2 linked regions of the Homo sapiens genome follow. The gene in region 1 interacts genetically with each later gene. Each region holds a gene or a part of one and is shown in the gene's direction. Other genes may lie near its edges.

The links.
Region 2: changes in NPNT (region 1) and FLT3 together harm fitness less than expected from each alone (positive genetic interaction), as found in Homo sapiens cells (one study listed by BioGRID).

Annotation. Positions count from the first base shown.
Region 1 is NC_000004.12:105,936,728-105,940,550, forward strand, and holds part of NPNT (nephronectin isoform B precursor), read left to right. Parts: intron 1-281; coding exon 282-401; intron 402-1,573; coding exon 1,574-1,693; intron 1,694-3,347; coding exon 3,348-3,482; intron 3,483-3,786; coding exon 3,787-3,823. UniProt on the Homo sapiens protein: Functional ligand of integrin alpha-8/beta-1 in kidney development. Regulates the expression of GDNF with integrin alpha-8/beta-1 which is essential for kidney development.
Region 2 is NC_000013.11:28,002,730-28,006,855, reverse strand, and holds the end of FLT3 (receptor-type tyrosine-protein kinase FLT3 precursor), read left to right. Parts: intron 1-2,681; coding exon 2,682-2,804; 3' UTR 2,805-3,582; downstream 3,583-4,126. UniProt on the Homo sapiens protein: Tyrosine-protein kinase that acts as a cell-surface receptor for the cytokine FLT3LG and regulates differentiation, proliferation and survival of hematopoietic progenitor cells and of dendritic cells.

The DNA of each region.
Region 1 (3,823 bases):
GTTTCTAGGGTTGATAAGGTAGGCACCTGTTGTTGAGAATTTTCCTAACTGGCCTTTATAAACAGAGATCCATAAAGGTCATGGCGACTCCTGGTTGCCCCTAGTGTAACGTACCTTCAAATTAATATTGCATGAACAGGATCTATCTCTTATGTAAATGACAGTTACTGTAGCTTGACCTATTTTTCTCTTTCATTTTTTAATATAGAAAAGAATTTTAGATGGCTTACATTAGTGCTGAGGTTTTGTAATTTTTCTGCTTCAACCCACATTGTTTTCAGATCTAAATGAGTGTGGCCTGAAGCCCCGGCCCTGTAAGCACAGGTGCATGAACACTTACGGCAGCTACAAGTGCTACTGTCTCAACGGATATATGCTCATGCCGGATGGTTCCTGCTCAAGTATGTCAAGAATCTTAACTGTTTTATAAGTGCTTTGGGCTTGTTTCTGTTGTGCTCTGAGAGCTTGCTTTTGTGAAAATGGCCTCCGGGGTTCTCCTAAACAAGATGTGTGCGTGTGTTTATACTTTTGCCTGAGGAATTGAAAATCAAAATAAGAGGCACCATTTTCGATGTATAATACTCTTCTATCACGGGTGCCAATATTAAATTGATTAGGAAATGGTGTTTAGAATAAGAATTACAAAACTAAGTATGTTTTCTAATTTTTTTTTTAAACATGTTTACCCATGTCTTCTATCTGGGCATAGAAGAATGATTCCAGGCTAAAAAAAAAAAAAAAAGAACACTACTGACTATTTAGGGACTGCTCAGACAGAATCCATCAGGTCTGTTTTGTAATTTTAAATCATTCATAAATATTTTCTTCATTTTTATATTTCATTATAAAAGCCTTTAGGCTTTTATAGAATTTTAGACTCTAATAATAGTCTAAGACTTCTAAAAAACAATTTCAAATAAAAAATAAATGAATATGATACCAGAAAAGTAGGATTCATGTTTATAAGGAAGAAATGCATGTTTTCACCATCATTTGGATGTAAAAAATGGACTATGCCCTAAAATTCTCTATAGGCTGACTCCTGAATTGTGGTATTCATATGATATCTGACAATTAATGACTTGATTTTTATTTTTACTGAATTATCATTTAACTGAGTTGCATAAAATAAAGTTAGCTAATTTTATTTAACATTGCATAAGTATAGCATGGAACTTTTTGGAATTAGGTGAATACATGTTTAACATTGTGCAACTCAATGGGAAATCTGCTGTTCCCCTAGAGAAATTTCATGGGCATTTGAGACAGTTACTTGGATGATTAGTTAAGAATAGCGTTTAGCTTGAGTAATCTGGAAAAATACCTCAATTCTTCACTTTCCTTGGCCACTGGAAAAATTTCCAGATAATCTATATATGATAGTTTTATATTTGTCTTTTAATGCTTTCTTTCCTTCCCCCTTTTATTTTCTTTAGATGTTTGATAGTTAAGGCCTCTTTGTCTTCATTGTTGTTCAGTGTCACTGATTTCAGGACAAGTGAAAAAACATAGCTATTTCCATTACAGATTTTGTTTTCTACCTGTCTGAGTCAGCCAGTCACTCTCTTTCCAGGTGCCCTGACCTGCTCCATGGCAAACTGTCAGTATGGCTGTGATGTTGTTAAAGGACAAATACGGTGCCAGTGCCCATCCCCTGGCCTGCAGCTGGCTCCTGATGGGAGGACCTGTGTAGGTGAGTTGTAAAATCAAGCATCTCTGTCAGCAGCCTCTGTAGGATAAAGGGAGAAAGTGAAAGGTGATGGGAATAAGGAAAAAAAAGGCAATTACTTACATCAGATAATTAGCTATCGTTCAGAAGATATCAGATGTCTCAGAAGAGGACATCTCTGTGAATGGATAATGGGAGCGTTGTTTTTTAAAAAATGAGAAATAGGAGGAGGCCTCAGGCAGAGGGAACCCTATGTGCAAAGACACTGCAGTTCAGAGGAGCACAATGTTTAGGGAAACGAGAAGAGCTCAGTATTCCTAGAATGTAAGCGGCAAGGGTGAGCAATGAGTGATGAAGCTGAATAGCTAGATTGTATGTGTTGTTCTTCAGGCCTCAGATTTTTTTCTGGTAAATTAGGAAGGCAGTGTAGGATTGAGAGTCTGGACTTTGGTTTTAAACCTGGCTCTTCCATGTACTAGATATGTAACCTTAGGCAAGAGACTTTGTTGCTTTGAGCTTGGGTCTTCTTATCTTTAAAATGGAAATAATACCACATAGAACTGGTAGGAAGATTGAATGAGATCATGGATGCAAAGAGCTTAGCACAATACCTAGCATGTAATAAGCCTTGAATGAATGGAAGTGTTTGGTGATTAGAGTTATTTACTGAGTAATTTCTATACTCCAGACACTGTGCTGAGTGCTAGGATATATAGCAGTGGCCTAAGCACACAAGATTTTGATCCCCACAAAGCTGACATGCTAATGGGGGAGACAGAAAAGAAACAAATACCCCATAAAATTACAGACAATGCCAAGTGTTAACATGAGGTACTGAGAGAAAAACAGAATGTGTCTATTAGCCTTAAGGTAAGACCTGTATCATTAGCCATGTGAAGAAACAGCCAAGCAGCTGAAGACATTGCAGGGCACTGCGGTGAGAGAGAGGTTGGCCTGTGTGAGGTTTTTCAAGGAAGAAGGTCCATGTAGCTCAAGTACAGGGTGTGAGTATGAGGGGTGGTGGCTGGAGATATAATGGGTGAAGTAGGTGAGGGTGATTTGTTGCAGGGCCTTCAAGGACACAGGGGAGGAATGTGGATTTAATTCAAAGTGCAAGTAGAAATAGTTAAAAGATTTTGAGCACAGTAATGATTTGATTGTATGTTTTAATGGAATCATTTTGACAGTTGGGTTGGATATGCTTTGGAGGGGGTAAGTAACAGCAAAAGGAACTGTTTTGAGGCTTTTGTAACAGTCTAACCCAAGAGATGGTGGCTTCAAATAGGGTAGTGGTGGTGGATTAAGAGAAAAGTAGACAGATTCAAATACTTTTTTTTAGAGGTAGAATTAACTGGACTTGATGATATGGGAGTTAAAGGAAAGAGGGTTGTTTCTAATTCAAGAATGACTCATGTTTCTAGTTTAAGCAACTTGGTAGATACAGGTGCAGTATGTGCTAATATATAGAGTGCAAGAAAATAATAACTTGGCTTAGAAGGCTGGGTTGAAATTTGGATATGTGGAATTTATGTTGCCTGTAGGGACAACCAGCTAGATACCGTTTATGATGAGCCACTATATGCTAGGCAACCATTTGTAGTCAGTTATTTATTTTGAAACCCACTCTGTCTTAACATACCCTTGCTCTTCCTAAAATGCTATTGACTTATGTTTCTAGATGTTGATGAATGTGCTACAGGAAGAGCCTCCTGCCCTAGATTTAGGCAATGTGTCAACACTTTTGGGAGCTACATCTGCAAGTGTCATAAAGGCTTCGATCTCATGTATATTGGAGGCAAATATCAATGTCATGGTAATGAAACCCAACCATTGCTTTGTGTTGTTTCTTCCTAGAGCACTGAAAGGTCTCGTAATTGTGGTGATGGCTGGAATGTCAGGGGCAGGGGAGAGTACTGGCGTTAAGTTAAACCAACAGACATCCAGTTTAACCACTGGTAGTTCTCAGTCTACATGTAGTTTATTTCTTCTGTTTATCTGCCAATATTATGTAGATCATCACATTGCCAAAAAAAATCATTTTTGAAACTGTATATATTTTTTATGTCATCATATTTATCTCCTAAATAAGTCTCTTCTTTTCCTACTTTCTGATGCAGACATAGACGAATGCTCACTTGGTCAGTATCAGTGCAG
Region 2 (4,126 bases), on another chromosome or scaffold:
AGAATTGCTTGAACCTGAGAGGCAGAGGTTGCTGTGAGCTGAGATCATGCCACAACACTCCAGCCTGGGCAACAGAGTGAGACTCTGTCACAACAGCAACAGCAACAACAAAAAAAAAAAAAAAAAAGGAAAGAAAGGTCACTTAAAGAAATGGAAAAGAGTGATGTATTACAACTATACCCAGTAACTAGCTATGGGAGTGGAGAGAGATTGTCAGAGATGGTTCTAGAAACTTCTAGACAGTGAGACTGGATGAAGAGCACATGTTAGTTAATTCAGGTGGAAGATTGGAAGTGTTATTGGTATTTGTGCTACACAAACTTCATGAGGTGGTTAGAAATTCAGTGGTAGAGATGTACATTTGGATTCAACAGGTTCAACAAATGCTAACTAACTGCTATGTCTACTTCACAAAAGGCACGCATGAGTAGTTACTGTTCATCCTTCAGGGTACAAGCAAAGCTGTCATTGTGCAACACCTGGTTCACAATGGATATATTTTGGGTCAAAGGATACACACACACACACACACACACACACACACACACAATTTTCTAGAAAGAAAAGTGAAGTGTAGGAGGCAGTCTGGACAGTTCACATTAAAACTGTCAAAAACAAAGAAAAAGAAGTAGACAGTAACAAGGGCTGTGGGAACGGAACAAATCTATAAAATTTAAATAGAATGCATGATTCCTAAATCATAAAGTTCTTATAAACAAATAATAATAAAAATGTATCACCTTTTAAAAACTTATTTCTTTTAGAGACAGGATCTTGCTATGTTGGTTAGTTTGGTCTTGAACTCTTGGCCTCAAGCAATCCTCCCGCCCCGGCCTCCCAAAGTGCTAGGATTACAGAGTTGAGCCAGTACACCCAGCCTGTATAGCCTTTTATATACATAAAAGGCAAAGGAAATAGGCAGGCTATTCAAAATGAAAACAAATGGACATAAAGTATAGGAAAAAGGCCCAACTTTGCAGATAGTGAAACATATATAGTTAAGGAGATAGAACTTCTTGCTCAGCAAAAGAGAAGAGATGTGGGAGGCTGACATACCCATTGTTCAGAAGGCTCTGGAAAATATAGTTTCCAGGCACCGTTGATAGGAGTAGAAATAAATACAACCTTTCTGCAGGGCAGCCTGGCCTTGTGTATCACAGTTCAAGTGTGCATCCTTTTTGATCCAGCAATTCCACTTCTGCTTATCCCAACGTCAGACTAGATTGAGTGTGCACTTTTCAGTTTGTTTCGTATAACCAGTTGGTCAAAAGGTTAATTATGATGCATCAGTACTATGGAACTCTAGGCTGCCGTGAAAAAAAAATATGTGGCCATCCTTAGTGAATAATGTAAATATGTGACACAGGCAACATATGAGCAGTATAATAACAATATATTGATAATTCAAAATAAGGTTCCAAAATAGAATATATAGCCTGAGCCCACAGACACAAAATTGTGTGTGCATAGCAAGCTGTCTATAATGGCGGGTACTTGTCATGACTTGTAGCCTTTTTTCTTTTTTTTGAGATGGAGTCTTGCTCTGTCACCCAGGCTGGAGTGCAGTGGCACAATCTAGGCTCACTGCAGCCTCCACCTCCCAGGTTCAAGCAATTCTCCTGCCTTAGCCTCCCAAGTAGCTGGGACTGCAGGCGCGCGCCGCCATGCCCGGCTAGTTTTGTATTTTTAGTAGAGACAGGGTTTCTCCACGTTGGCTAGGCTGGTCCTGAACTCCCAACCCCAGGTGATCCGCCCGCCTCGGCATCCCAAAGTGCTGGGATTACAGGCATGAGCCACTGCGCCCGGCCTTCTACGTCTCTTTCTGTATTTCTCAAATTATCTATATGAATGCATGTTAACTTCATATTTGGGAAAGGAAAGTAAATCTCTTCATTTCAGAAAAAAATATTTAAAAGTCGTGAAACTCCAAGGGAAAACTCAAGAATCAGTCCCTTGTATTAACTCCATAATGAACAGATTTCCTTTTGTGGCCTTTCTCTTTTATGATTTTTCTGCATGGTTTTAGGATTTCTAGGGTGACATTTTATATCTGAGAGTAGACTCAATAATGAAATAAAATATTTGACTATGATTTGATTTCTCCATTAATAAAAGGACCAAAATTGCTTTTTTAGTTATATAGAATATCCTCTGAGACCTATGCATAATAAAAGTACTTGTCTACACGTTTCCTGAAAATATGTACATCTATTATATATCAGTTTAAACATTTTAAAAGTGATGTCTAGGCCGGGCGTAGTGGCTCACACCTGTAATCGCAGCACTTTGGGAGGCCGGGGTGGTGTGGGATCACTTGAGCCCAGGAGTTTGAGACCACCCTGGACAACATAGTGAGACTTTGTCTTTACAAAAAATAAAAAAATTAGCAGGGTGTGGTGGAGCCTGCTTGTGGTCCCAGCTACTCAGGAGGTTAAGGTGGGAGGATTGCTCAAACCCAGAACATCAAGGCCACGGTGAACTATGGTTGTACCACTGCACTCCAGTCTGGGCAACAGAGCGAGACTCTGTCTCAAAAAATAAACAAACAAACAACAAACAAACAAAAAAGTAATTGTCTATATAGAACAACTGTTTTTATTTAAATAATTTGTAATATGGGCGCATAACATGTGCATCTACATCAGATGGTAATCAGTGTTCTGTCTCTTTCCCACATTCAGATGTATCAGAATGTGGATGGCCGTGTTTCGGAATGTCCTCACACCTACCAAAACAGGCGACCTTTCAGCAGAGAGATGGATTTGGGGCTACTCTCTCCGCAGGCTCAGGTCGAAGATTCGTAGAGGAACAATTTAGTTTTAAGGACTTCATCCCTCCACCTATCCCTAACAGGCTGTAGATTACCAAAACAAGATTAATTTCATCACTAAAAGAAAATCTATTATCAACTGCTGCTTCACCAGACTTTTCTCTAGAAGCTGTCTGCGTTTACTCTTGTTTTCAAAGGGACTTTTGTAAAATCAAATCATCCTGTCACAAGGCAGGAGGAGCTGATAATGAACTTTATTGGAGCATTGATCTGCATCCAAGGCCTTCTCAGGCTGGCTTGAGTGAATTGTGTACCTGAAGTACAGTATATTCTTGTAAATACATAAAACAAAAGCATTTTGCTAAGGAGAAGCTAATATGATTTTTTAAGTCTATGTTTTAAAATAATATGTAAATTTTTCAGCTATTTAGTGATATATTTTATGGGTGGGAATAAAATTTCTACTACAGAATTGCCCATTATTGAATTATTTACATGGTATAATTAGGGCAAGTCTTAACTGGAGTTCACGAACCCCCTGAAATTGTGCACCCATAGCCACCTACACATTCCTTCCAGAGCACGTGTGCTTTTACCCCAAGATACAAGGAATGTGTAGGCAGCTATGGTTGTCACAGCCTAAGATTTCTGCAACAACAGGGGTTGTATTGGGGGAAGTTTATAATGAATAGGTGTTCTACCATAAAGAGTAATACATCACCTAGACACTTTGGCGGCCTTCCCAGACTCAGGGCCAGTCAGAAGTAACATGGAGGATTAGTATTTTCAATAAAGTTACTCTTGTCCCCACAGTCCCCTTCATTTTATTTTTATTTATTTGTTTGTTTATTTAATGTTTTAGTGACAGGGTCTCACCCTGTCTCCCAGGCTGGAGTGGAGTGGTGAGATCACAGCTCACTGCAGCCTGAAACTCCTGGCCTCAAGCGATCCTCCCACCTCAGCCTCCTGAGTGGCTGGGACTACAAGCACAGGCCACCACGCCCAGCTAATTTTTAAAATTTTTTGTAGAGATAGTGTCTTGCTATGCTGTGCAGGCTGGTCACAAATTCTTGGCCTCAAACAGTCCTCTTGCCTCAGCCTCCTAAAGTGCTGGGATTACAGGTGTGAGCCATGGCGACCAGCCCTCTTTGTCCTTTGAAGCTTAGCACCCTCCATCCTGTAGGCTTATGAACTTGGTTTGTGCCCCCGCCCCGCCCACCTCCGCTTACACGACAGGTGCCACCAAATTCTGCCTCTTCTTTCTCCTCCACCTCCTGTTGCATGTAGTGGTGAGGGACAAGGGATCTGGAACCGGTCAGCCCAGGTTGGAATTCTCTTTTCACCTGGCCTTAGCTG